3 linked regions of the Homo sapiens genome follow. The protein of the gene in region 2 purifies or fractionates together with the protein of the main gene of each other region. This does not show direct contact. Each region holds a gene or a part of one and is shown on either strand. Other genes may lie near its edges.

Region 1 (3,714 bases), on a different chromosome or scaffold from region 2:
ACCTTTAAGGTTCTCCCAACTCACCCACCTCCCTATCAGAGTCCAAATCCTCTTTACAGAGTCCCTGCAATTACTTGCACACCTCCAGGGACAAGCAGCCAGCCACATCCTAAGAGGACTGAGGTGTGGGTTTCATCGTCTCGTTTGTGCCAAGAACAGGCGCCATGGACCACAAATCTGTATTCCTCCAGAGTTCTGAGCTCAGGCCCTGGTCCATGCTCAGCAACTACTGGCTGATTAAAACAGTCACAACGACCAGTTACTCCTTTTGTAGTGGCAAACATTAGCTTAGAGGCACTGCAAAGACTGTCTTCTGTCGATACTGCTGTTGCTTCCCTAATTTTCTGAGATCCCTTCCTGCCAGTTCCAAGGATGATCCATACTGGCTGGTAGAGTACCCCAGGACAGGGAGGCAAGCTCTTGGGAGAAATCTCATTTTCTAGTGGCAGGCAAGACAGGTTGGGTAGGCCTTCCCTAGGTCAGCTAAGTCTTCCTGTCCCCTCTACTCGGTATCTTCCACCCCCTCACTGAACACCAACTATGTGCAATGCTAGGTCTTTACCTGCACTATCTCATCTAATCCACGCATCTGCTTTACAGATGAGGATACTGAGGCTTAGAGGGATTAGGTGCTTAGCCAAAGCCACCCGTGTAGTAAGGAGCTGTGGCAACAATTCCTTTTGTCAGCCTATTTCCCACCCACTGCTTCTTCTGGTAAGACATGATATTTTCTTAGCCACAGGAAGGGCCAGTGATCTAGACTGGCCCAGTGGGACTTTTCCAACTGCAGGTGAGGAAAAGAGCTCCTTCCTTTATAGTGCTGGGTTCTAAGGGTGCAAGCCCAGGACTGCCTACAGCCAAGGTTCCACCCTCAAGGGACATCCAGGTAAGAATGAAGTAGCCTCGCAGAGAGGATCAGGGAAAGGGGGAGAAAAAGTGCTGACAGTGTTCATGTTGCCAGTTCATGATCTGGCCATATGAGCCAACACATTCCTTTTTGCTAAGGATGGTGCAGTTCACACTGGCTTTCTGTCACTTGCAACCCAGTCGTCCTGAATAACACACACAATTCAAACCTGGGTTTATGTTAATTCAAGACCTGTGCTCTTAATAGCTTGCTATTCTGTTTTTTTGTTTTGTTTTTTGGAGACAGGGTCACCTAGGCTGGAGTACAGTGGTGTGATCACAGCTCACTGCAGCCTTGGCCTCCCAGGCTCAAGCATTCCTTCCACCTCAGTCTCCTGAGTAACTGGGACCACAGGTGCATGCCACTATGCCCAGCTAATTTTATTTTATTATTATTATTATTATTATTATTATTTTTTGTAGAGATGAGGTCTCACTATGTTGCCCAGGCTGGCCTCAAATTCCTGGGCTCAATAATCAACCCACATCAGCCATCCATAGTGCTGGGATTACAGCTGTGAGCCACCATGTCTGGCCAACAGCTTGCTATTCTGTTTTTGATTACTAGGCTTATCAGGAGATCAGGTTAGAAAGGGATCTCCCTCCCCCCTCCCCCAACCCTCCCCCTCTCCCTCGCTTCTTCCTTCTCCCTCTGTTGCTGAGGCTGGACTGTACTGCCGTGATCTCAGCTCCCTGCAACCTCCCTGCCTCGGGCTCCCGTGATTCTCCTGCCTCGGCCTGCCGAGTGCCTGGGATCGCAGGCACACGCCGCCACACCTGACTGGTTTTTGTATTTTTGGTGGAGACGGGGTTTCGCCGTGTTGACCAGGCTGGTCTCCAGCTCTTGACCTCGAGTGATCTGCCCGCCTCGGCCTCCCGAGGTGCTGGGATTGCAGACGGAGTCTCGCTCACTCAATGCTCAATGTTGCCCAGGCTGGAGTGCAGTGGCGTGATCTCGGCTCGCTACAACCTCCACCTCCCAGCCGCCTGCCTTGGCCTCCAAAAGTGCTAAGATTACAGGCTCTGCCCGGCCGCCACCCCATCTAGGAAGTGAGGAGCGTCTCTGCCTGGCCGCCCATCGTCTGGGATGTGAGGAGCCCCTCTGCCCGGCCACCCCATCTGGGAGGTGAGAAGCGCCTCTGCCCAGCTGCCCATCGTCTGGGATGTGAGGAGCGCCTCTGCCCGGCCGCCCCGTCTGGGAAGTGAGGAGCGCCTCTGCCCAGCTGCCCCGTCTAGGAAGTGAGGAGCGCCTCTGCCTGGCTGCCCATCGTCTGGGATGTGAGGAGCGCCTCTGCCCGGCCGCCCCGTCTGGGAAGTGAGGAGCGCCTCTGCCCAGCTGCCCCGTCTGGGAAGTGAGGAGCCCCTCTGCCCGGCTGCCCTGTCTGGGAGGTGAGAAGCGCCTCTGCCCGGCTGCCCATCGTCTGGGATGTGAGGAGCGCCTCTGCCCGGCCACCCCGTCTGGGAAGTAAGGAGCCCCTCTGCCCGGCCGCCCCGTCTGGGATGTGAGGAGCCCTTCTGCCCGGCCGCCCCGTCTGGGAGGTGAGGAGCCCCTCTGCCCGGCCGCCCCATCTGGGAGGTGAGGAGCACCTCTGCCCAGCCGCCCCGTCTGGGAGGTTAGGAGCCCTTCTGCCTGGCCGCCCCATCTGGGAAGTGAGGAGCACCTCTGCCTGGCCGCCACCCCGTCTAGGAAGTGAGGAGCGCCTCTGCCTGGCTGCCCATCGTCTGTCTGGGAGGTGAGAAGCGCCTCTGCCCGGCCGCCCCGTCTGGGAGGTGAGGAGCGTCTCTGCCCGGCTGCCCATCGTCTGGGATGTGAGGAGCGCCTCTGCCCGGCCGCCCCGTCTGGGAGGTGAGGAGCGCCTCTGCCCGGCCGCCCCGTCTGGGAGGTGTGGAGCACCTCTGCCTGGCCGCCCCGTCTGGGAAGTGAGGAGCGCCTCTGCCCAGCCGCCCCGTCTGGGAAGTGAGAAGTGCCTCTGCCCGGCCGCCCGGTCTGGGAGGTGTACCCAACAGCTCCGAAGAGACAGCGACCATTGAGAATGGGCCATGATGACGATGGCAGTTTTGTCAAAAAGAAAAGGGGGAAATGTGGGGAAAAGAAAGAGAGATCAGATTGTTACTGTGTCTGTGTAGAAAGAAGTAGACATAGGAGACTCCATTTTGTTCTGTACTAAGAAAAATTCTTCTGCCTTGGGATGCTGTTAGTCTATAACCTTACCCCCAACCCCGTGCTCTCTGAAACATGTGCTGTGTCCACTCAGGGTTAAATGGATTAAGGGTGGTGCAAGATGTGCTTTGTTAAACAGATGCTTGAAGGCAGCATGCTCGTTAAGAGTCATCACCACTCCCTAATCTCAAGTACCCAGGGACATAAACACTGAGGAAGGCTGCAGGGTCCTCTGCCTAGGAAAACCAGAGACCTTTGTTCACGTGTTTATCTGCTGACCTTCTCTCCACTATTATCCTATGACCCTGCCACATCCCCCTCTCTGAGAAACACCCAAGAATGATCAATAAATACTGAAAAAAAAAAAGAAAAGGATCAGCGTGGCCTAGGGCAATACACAAAGCTTGCATGAGGGAAGGGAGCCTCAAAGCACGGATGGATGAATCTAACTAGGCAGAAAAGCAGGAAAGCAGGGTAAAGGCCTGGAGGTGGAAGTGAAGAAGGTTCTGCATGGAGCTGAGATGCCTGGCTTACTGGAGCCAGAGAAAGAGAAGGGACGGGCGGCTCGATCTTCAGACTGGACAGATAGCCAGTAACCCTGAGGACTGCTCAGTGGTCTGAGACGAGTGACCAACACAGAGGCCCCA
Region 2 (4,371 bases):
CCCCAAGAGCTGCAGAGTCAAGAGTTGGGAGGAAGAAAGGCGGGCCTAGAAAGAGGCAGGGAAAGCCTCCATAGCCCATCCATCCAGGGACACTATGCTCTGATCACGCTTCTCTACAGCCCCCACACGGGACTGGCTCATTCTGAATCGTGGCCATTCTCGGGATGCTCACCCCTTCTCAAGATCACCTCCACTGGTGATGATTAGGTTTCTAAAAGGGCTTAAAACTTTCCTAGCCCCTTGTCCCTTTTTTTTTTTTTTAAGACTGAGTTTCGCTCTTGTTGCCCAGGCTGGAGTGCAGTGGCGCAATCTTGGCTCACTGCAACCTCTGCCTCCCAGGTTCAAGTGATTCTCCTGCCTCAGCCTCCCAAGTAGCTGGGATTACAGGTGCCCATCACCACACCCAGCTAATTTTGTATTTTTAGTAGAGACGGGGTTTCACCATGTTGGCCAGTTCGAACTCCTGACCTCAGGTGATCCACCCGCCTCGGCCTCCCAAAGTGCTGGGGTTACAGGTGCAAGCCACTGGGCCCGGCCACTTTGCTGCCTTGTAACCTCCTTCACCTTAATCCCCATTAGAGTTGTGGGTATTACCCTTGGGGTGGAAGGGTGGGCCCCTCACCTGAATGGGAAGTTGTTAGTGATGCTGTAGACCATGGTCCCAGTCAATGCCACTAGCTCCAGCATTACAGACTGGAGACTCAACCCTTCAGCACTCTTGGCTCCCAGGATTTTAAACACCTGGGGCAGCTTTACTAGGGGAAAGATGAGAAAAGTAGGACTGAGGACTCTCCATTCTTTGGGATGCAACACAACAGCTATAGAACGAACACCCACACAGTTGATGGCCTCTCAGCACCTCCACCCCAACCCAACAGCTGGAAAGAAAGATAAGAGACATACCTAGAAGTGAGCCAGCCACAATGCCCAGCCCCAGGCCTTTGCTGAGGAGAATCTTGAGGCAGGGGACTGAGGAGAGAAAAAAGGGTAAGCAGACAGGAGATGTCTGAAACCCAGGCCAGGGCTTGAAGCTCCTGTGGGCTCTCCCCGAGCCCCCTTACCCACACCAGGGTCTTGCATTGTCTTGGGGGGAGGAGAGGCGGAGGGCAGTGAGAAAGTCCTGGTCCTTCCTGCTCCAAACCACCACACTTTTTTTTTTTTTTGGAGACAGAGTCTTGCTCTGTCACCCAGGCTGGAGTGCAGTGGCCCAATCTCAGCCCACTGCAGCCTCTGCCTCTTGGGTTCAAGCAATTCTCTTGTCTCAGCCTCCCAAGTAGCTAGAATTACAGGCACACACCACCATGCCCGGTTAATTTTTGTGTTTTTAGTAGAGACAGGGTTTCACCATGTTGGCCAGGCTGGTCTCGAACTCCTGACCTCAGATGATCCACCTGCCTCAGCCTCCTTAAAGTGCTGGGATTATAAGCTCGAGCTACCGCACCGGGCCCCAGACTGTTACTTTCCAAAACAGCTTTTCTCCGATGCCTACCACCCCCCACATCCAATCTTCCATTCCCTATAAATTAACACCCAAACTTGGCTTGACCTCCACGGCTCTCCATTGCTTCCCCATATAAAGCTGAGAAATGCCCAAGAGCTCTCTGATCCTTTATTTCCCTTCTCTGGGCCAATGGGTGCCCCATTTCACATGTCTTCTCTCTCCAAAGACAAGTCTTCATACCATTTTTTTTTTCTTATTTTAATTTTGAGACGGAGTTTCACTCTTGTTGCCCAGGCTGGAGTGCAATGGCACGATCTTGGCTCACTGTAACCTCTGTCTCCCGGGTTTAAGCGATTCTCCTGCCTCAGCCTCCCGAGTAGCTGGGATTACAGGCGCCTGCCACAACGCCCGGCTAATTTTTTGTATTTTTAGTAGAGGCGGGGTTTCGCCCTATTGGCCAGGCTGGTCTCGAACGCCTGACCTCAGGTGATCCACCCGCTTCGGCCTCCCAAAGTGCTGGGATTACAGGCGTGAGCCACCGTGCCCGCCCCATACCACTCTTTCTTGAACACTCTGACTGTCCCTGGCCCCTACTCAGGGACTAAACCTTACCCTTTCAAGGCTTGCTTTTATGCCCTGGCCATCCACAACTTCTCTAGCCTTGAAGCCTTCCCCTCAAGGAACTTGGTCTAGTGGGAGTCTGACTCTCACGGGTCATGAATGCGGCTAAAACAAAGTGCCCCACGAGCTCAAGAGAGGTACCATGAACTGACAGGGGCAGACTGACGCTCCCCAAACGGTCTGACGGTGACCCTTGTGGAGCTGTCTCGCAATCAGAAAAAGGAAGGGAGGCAAATTATTCCGAAATCAGACTATGAGCAAACCTGGAGGCTGGAAAGAAAGCAATCAGGGTGGCGGAGCCTTTGGGGGTGCAATGAAGGCCCGATTCATCAGGGGCTTTGAATTAAGTTTAACCCTGCTAGCGATCTAATAAAGGTTGGCATGATTTGACTTAATTTTTATTTTGTTTTATAAAAGTTGACTCTTCGTTTTTCATTGTCGCTACAGCACAAACTCCACAAAGAAGTAATTCCACCCGGTGACTTCCCCACTGGCACTAATATGGTGTCCTCCCTCTAAGGAGCCCGAGACACTTCCGCCCTTCTCAGAAGTGACTTCCGTCCAGCTCGGCATGGCGGCAGTCACTGCCGTCACTTAGTCGCCGATCAAGGCTTGGACTAAGGGCCCACGGTCACTCGAGTAGGACTTGGATCGGATGCTGAATAAAACTCACCGTGAAGCAAGTCCCACTGAACGAAAAGTTGGTCGTAGCATTTCTCAGGTAAAAGAATCGGCACGAGCAGCCGTTTAAGCGGTCCGTCCGCCTCGGCCGCCATATTGCAAAGCTAGCTTCCGCCAGTCTCTCCAGACCGCCATTGACTTTCGTTGCGCGTGCGCGCTGCGGACACTCCGCCTCCCGTTCTTTTCCCGCGGCGAAGCTGGCCCGCCCCGTGCCCCGCTCTTTCTGACGCTACCCACCCTCACTCTAGTGGCGTAAAATAAGTCTCAGTCAGGGACCACGTTTTGGACGCGCTGTTGGAATTGTAAAGCTTGCCGAAGCTGCACGCCTGCGCGGTTAGACCTCCCACGCCTTTGTTGACGCTTCCAGTTTGGAAGCCAGATTTACACCCCTGCCTTTCTCCGCTCCTCCTGCTGGGCGCCATCTTGTCTTCTCCTAGCACACTTTGTATTGTTCGAAGTTGAGAGAGAAGGAGCCGGAGTCTCCGAGGTGGCGTTGGGTGGGGGCGCTACTAGCTCCCGTTCTCTCAGCGTCTCTAGAGGGAAGGGCGCCGGTGGGAGCAGGAGAGTCTGCACCGGGCAGGCCTCCTTAGGTGCCGGGTTGCGCGCAGGGCCCTGTGCTTGTCTCGCCTCCGGTTGGCTCAGGCCTCGGAGCATGAGTGCGCCGGCAACTGCTGGGCCCGGGACAGTGAAGCAGAGGAGGAGGTGGGGGAGGCGAGCCCAGGTCGGGGAAGGGCAGCACCTGAATCACCCTTGGGGCCCAGACCCCCAAGAGTCTCCGGGGAGCCGAGGCCTGGCGAGGCAGTCCCGGGATTCGCCCCCTCCCCGCTGGCCCGAGGGCGCACCACGTGCTGGGCAGAGACTTCGGCGAGGCCGAGTGGACCCTGCAGCGCTGCTTGGGAAAGGGCACCTTGGACTACCTGGTGGGGGCGTTGTGCTTCGTTACCGACCGCCGGGACGCCAACCCACGGTGCCCACCCGTGCGTCATTCCGCTGTGGATCAGCCCTTTGGCGGCCCCCCTCCAAAGTCTACAAGGTCACACGGATGTCTGCAGGCAGAGGTGGGGCTGCTGGGGCCCTGCCAGGTGAGGGCTGCCCTTGTGGGGCAGTCTCTGGGCCTTGGAGGCCGGAAGCCTCCTGGGGCTCCTACGGCTGGGGGGTGCTGCTCATCCTGGCTCCCAGGGATTGCGCCGTAGCCAGCTGTAATGGGTGGGACTGGCGCTCACTGCTGGTGCAGGCTGTGGCCATCTGGGAGGTCCTTTCTGGAATCTGGACCTTGGCTGTCCTGAGAGTGACACTCCTCATCTCAAGTACTGGGGGCATGAAGTTAGGCTTGGCAGGTGGCCCCGTGTGGGGGGCATGCTGTTCCCAGGAGCCCCCAGTGGAGGTCAGAGTACCCACTGCTCCTTCTTGATTCAACCCCTTGTAGGTGGGATAGGAGCATGCCAGGTGCTGCGAGGGTTTAATCGGGCTCTTCTGCTGGCCTTGAATATGGTGGACAGGACAGGACATTCTCATTGCTCAGGAGCCACTGGCGCTGCCTTTGGGAATGAAGTTCCACAGCCCCCCACTCATTGCTTTGGCTGTCTGCTGCATTTGAAACTGTACGAGGGTCAGGAAGAAGGCTGCGG
Region 3 (3,500 bases), about 69 Mb from region 2:
AGTTGAGTAGGTGTAATCAGCCATATCTGTCACCCTGTGATGAAGACAGGATGGAGTCATTGGGAGCAGACCACCAGGGATGTCACCTGGGACTCACCCACCCATGGGGCTGACCAGAGGGAAGGGGCACAGCTTCTCTTCGGGGGCTGCCGGGAGGCTGAGCAGCAGGGGCCCAGAACAGGCGGGCGGGGGTAGAGCAGCCGTGAGGCCGGGCCACCCCAGTGACTGTGCACATGGGCAGGCGTGCACACACACACCCACACACTCACACATGTACTCATACACACAGTCACACACACACATACATGCACACACACATACTTATGCACATACACACGAAGATGCACATACACACGAACATATACATACATACTCATACACATGCACACACACACACGTACTCATACACACGTACTCATACATGCACACACATACTCAAACACCCACACTCACGCACTCACTCCCACACTCATACACACACGCACTCATACACACACACCCTTACACACACTCATACATTGACACACCCATAGACACATGGCTTACACACATCACACACACTAACACCCCTCGCCCACACTTTCTCTCACACACACACACTCCCTTTTCTCCCCCAGCAGTGGGGCAAGGCATTTGCACAGCCGTGCACGAGCAGAAGCCAAGCCTGGTCACTGGGTGCCTGCTCCCATGGCCTCGCCCGCCTCTCCTGTACCGTTTGTAGCAGGGGGAGCCCAGGCACTGGGCGTGCAGCAGCTCGCGGATTATCTGGCTGCTGGCCTTGGTGGAGCCCCCGAAGTGGATCTGCACCTTCTCAATGTTCATCAGCATCTTGGAGTGCATGGAGCGCAGGCGCCCCACGCTCTGCTCCATCTGCGCCAGGTCACCCCGAGGGAAGGCGCTGCCCAGCTTGAGGCTGCAGGGTGTGAGCAGAACAGAGGGAGGGTTGGCCCATGGCGGGGGCCTTGACCTTGTGTAAGCCGAATCCTTCAGTTCCGGGTCCCTTTTGTGCAGGACCCAGCTAGGCTGGGGGTCGCTGGGCAGCTTGACCCCTCAGCAGTAGTCCTTTCCACAGCATCTGAGGGCCAGACTTGCCGGGAAGGCTTTCCTCAGATGGGGAAGTGCAGGCCAGCCAAATGGAAGAAAGCCCTGCTGCCTGTCTGCAGCTGTGGGTGGAGGAGCTGAGGGCAGCCCCGGGCCTTCCCATCTCGGCGCACCTGGCCTAGCATACCTGGAACCCACAGGGCTCCAAGAGCAGCCTGAAGTCCTCTGAACTATGGACTCCCATCCTTAGGAGAAGGGGAGCAGCAGAGAGGTGGGCAGGAGCCGGAGGGAGCATGAGATGCCCACCGCCAGCCTCCTTCGTTGGCTGAGCCCACCCTCTGGCTGAGCTATACCGGACCCTCCCCCCACCGCTCTAATCCCGGGGTTGCTGAGACAGCCGAAGGCTGAGGAAGAGGTTGAGAAGTAGAGGAGCTCTCAGAGGCAGCTGGCGCCCTTGACGAAGTCCCACCGTAACTCCCAAAAGCAGGTGTGACTAGGTCTGCCTCCTACGCTCATGCCTTGGGAACTGCCAGGGAGCTAGTTCAGAAATCGGCCTGCGGCCCCCACTGTCCCATTCCAAGGAGGAGGCTCTCCACACTGTCCCACAGCACTGCCTTCTGTCACGTTCCGCTGGGCCCTCCGGAGTCATCCCTGTCCCCTGCCTTCCCCATCCAGAGCCCTGGCCCCGGACCCATATGTCCCATATGCTGTCCCATAGCATACTTGCGGCTATGCTGCCGGACCTGCTCCAGTTCAAACACCGTGTAGGGGCGGATGGAATGGTGCCCAGGTAGGCCTGGACCCGCGGGGGTCACGGGGATGGCACTGGGCAGGGACAGAGGGAGAAGGGGCGGGTCAGAGTGGGACAAGTCCGGTCCCCCAAATCCACCTGCCTAAAGAACCTTCCCACCCGCCCCCGGCCTGGAAGGGAGCGAGGGCTGGAAGCAGACACATGAAAGAAAGGGAGAGGACAGGTGGACACAGGTGAAGGGAGGAGACGCAGCCCTGCCATGCGAGGCCACGTGCCGGCGGTGTGGGCACTCACTGTCCAGTCACAGGTGTCTCCAAGGGCCGGTCACATGAGAGGCAGTGGAAATGTGCCAGGAGCTGCCTGTTAGGAATGGGACGCACACGCAGGGTGAGTGCTCTGCCCGGAAGACCCAGAAGGGCTTGGGGCTCTGCAGGCCCCTGGAAGCTCAGCCCACCAGGGTGCAGATCATGTCCCTGCTCCCCAGGAATCCATCTGCTCCCACCTCTGGGCTCACATCCCAGACCTCCCTGTCCTAACCCAAAGCCAGCAGGCTTCCCATGGGCCCCTGAGGGTGCCCTGTGCAAGTCTCGGGCGCCCCCTGGCGGCCACGAATGGGAATCCTGGAATTCAAGCCTACCACGGGCCAGGTCCTATGGGCCAGGCCCCCAGGAGCTGTCTCAGCTCTGGGTACTGAGGACCTCTCCCTGTCCCAAAGGCCCAGCTTAGCTCAGCCAAACCCTGAGAGCCTTAAGCCTCCCCTCCTCCCTTTCTCTGCTGTAATACGAAGGGGCCTGAGCTAGAAGAGCGTTTCAAGCTCTAAAATTCTGTCCCTCCAACCATGGGACAGTCCTGGGCAGGATCCGCTGTGTGCTGGCAGGAGCTGTTTGTCTGGAGACCCCCAGCCCCCTCTGCCCTCACCCCCTGAAGAGCGTGCCAGCCTCCTCCCCTGCCTCCCAGGCCTCACCTCCGCATGGCAGCCGCCTCGTCTGCCTGGTAGAGTGGGGGGCGCTCCCTGAGCTGCTGTCGCAGCGATTTCCACCGATCCTCCAGCAACTGCTTCACTGGGTCCAGCTCCAGGCGGTCCAGCTGTGGCGGGGAAAGAGGGGCCAGGGGACCTCTAAGGAAGCAGGTAGGGGGCTGACCCAGGAGAAGGTGGTGCTGTCCCGATCCTGGGGGCAAGGCTGTGGGATGGAGAGCCCCGCCATGCCCCTGCCTCACCTTGTTGTCCATCTCTGTGAGCAGCCTGTCCAGCATCTTCTGCCAGTCCTGCTCCTGCCCGCTCATCTTGGCCACCAGCTCCTGCATCATGTGGTTCAGCTGCTCCGTGGTGGCATCAAACTGGACACGGCTCACTTTGGTGGCCAGAGCACTCTTGTCGGCTTTCTGCCCAGAGACAGACAGAGGTCCCCGCATCTGGGAGATGGCCATGGAGGGGCCCCATTCCCTGGGGGTGTCGACCCCTATCACCAGGCAGGTTTCTGAGAGCCCACACTCGTCTCGCCAGCTCCCCTCCACTCAGTCTCTCAAAGAACAGTCAGCGAGACCGCCCTGGGACACAGCGTGGCTCCTGGGGCCTGGCACCCACCACATCGATCTCCATCTCCAGGTGCTCCCTGTTGGCCTTTTCCTTTTCGAGCTTCTCCAGACCCTGGTACAGCATCTGGGGAGGCCAAGTGAACAGAGAAAAAAAGAGCCAGCAGCTGCGGGG

The links.
Region 1: the proteins of MPDU1 (region 2) and CLN6 purify together in Homo sapiens (co-immunoprecipitation; one large-scale study listed by IntAct). This does not show direct contact.
Region 3: the proteins of MPDU1 (region 2) and QRICH2 purify together in Homo sapiens (affinity purification with mass spectrometry; one large-scale study listed by BioGRID and IntAct). This does not show direct contact.

What each region holds. Positions count from the first base shown.
Region 1 is NC_000015.10:68,219,708-68,223,421, forward strand, and holds part of CLN6 (ceroid-lipofuscinosis neuronal protein 6), read right to left. Parts: intron 1-3,714.
Region 2 is NC_000017.11:7,582,330-7,586,700, reverse strand, and holds the start of MPDU1 (mannose-P-dolichol utilization defect 1 protein), read right to left. Parts: upstream 2,850-4,371; 5' UTR 2,839-2,849; coding exon 2,736-2,838; exon of another isoform or gene 2,609-2,735; intron 970-2,608; coding exon 904-969; intron 756-903; coding exon 623-755; intron 10-622; coding exon 1-9. UniProt on the Homo sapiens protein: Required for normal utilization of mannose-dolichol phosphate (Dol-P-Man) in the synthesis of N-linked and O-linked oligosaccharides and GPI anchors.
Region 3 is NC_000017.11:76,277,277-76,280,776, forward strand, and holds part of QRICH2 (glutamine-rich protein 2), read right to left. Parts: intron 3,453-3,500; coding exon 3,378-3,452; intron 3,176-3,377; coding exon 3,011-3,175; intron 2,879-3,010; coding exon 2,757-2,878; intron 2,153-2,756; coding exon 2,087-2,152; intron 1,867-2,086; coding exon 1,765-1,866; intron 914-1,764; coding exon 713-913; intron 35-712; coding exon 1-34. UniProt on the Homo sapiens protein: Has an essential role in the formation of sperm flagella and flagellar structure maintainance. It acts as a suppressor of ubiquitination and degradation of proteins involved in flagellar development and motility.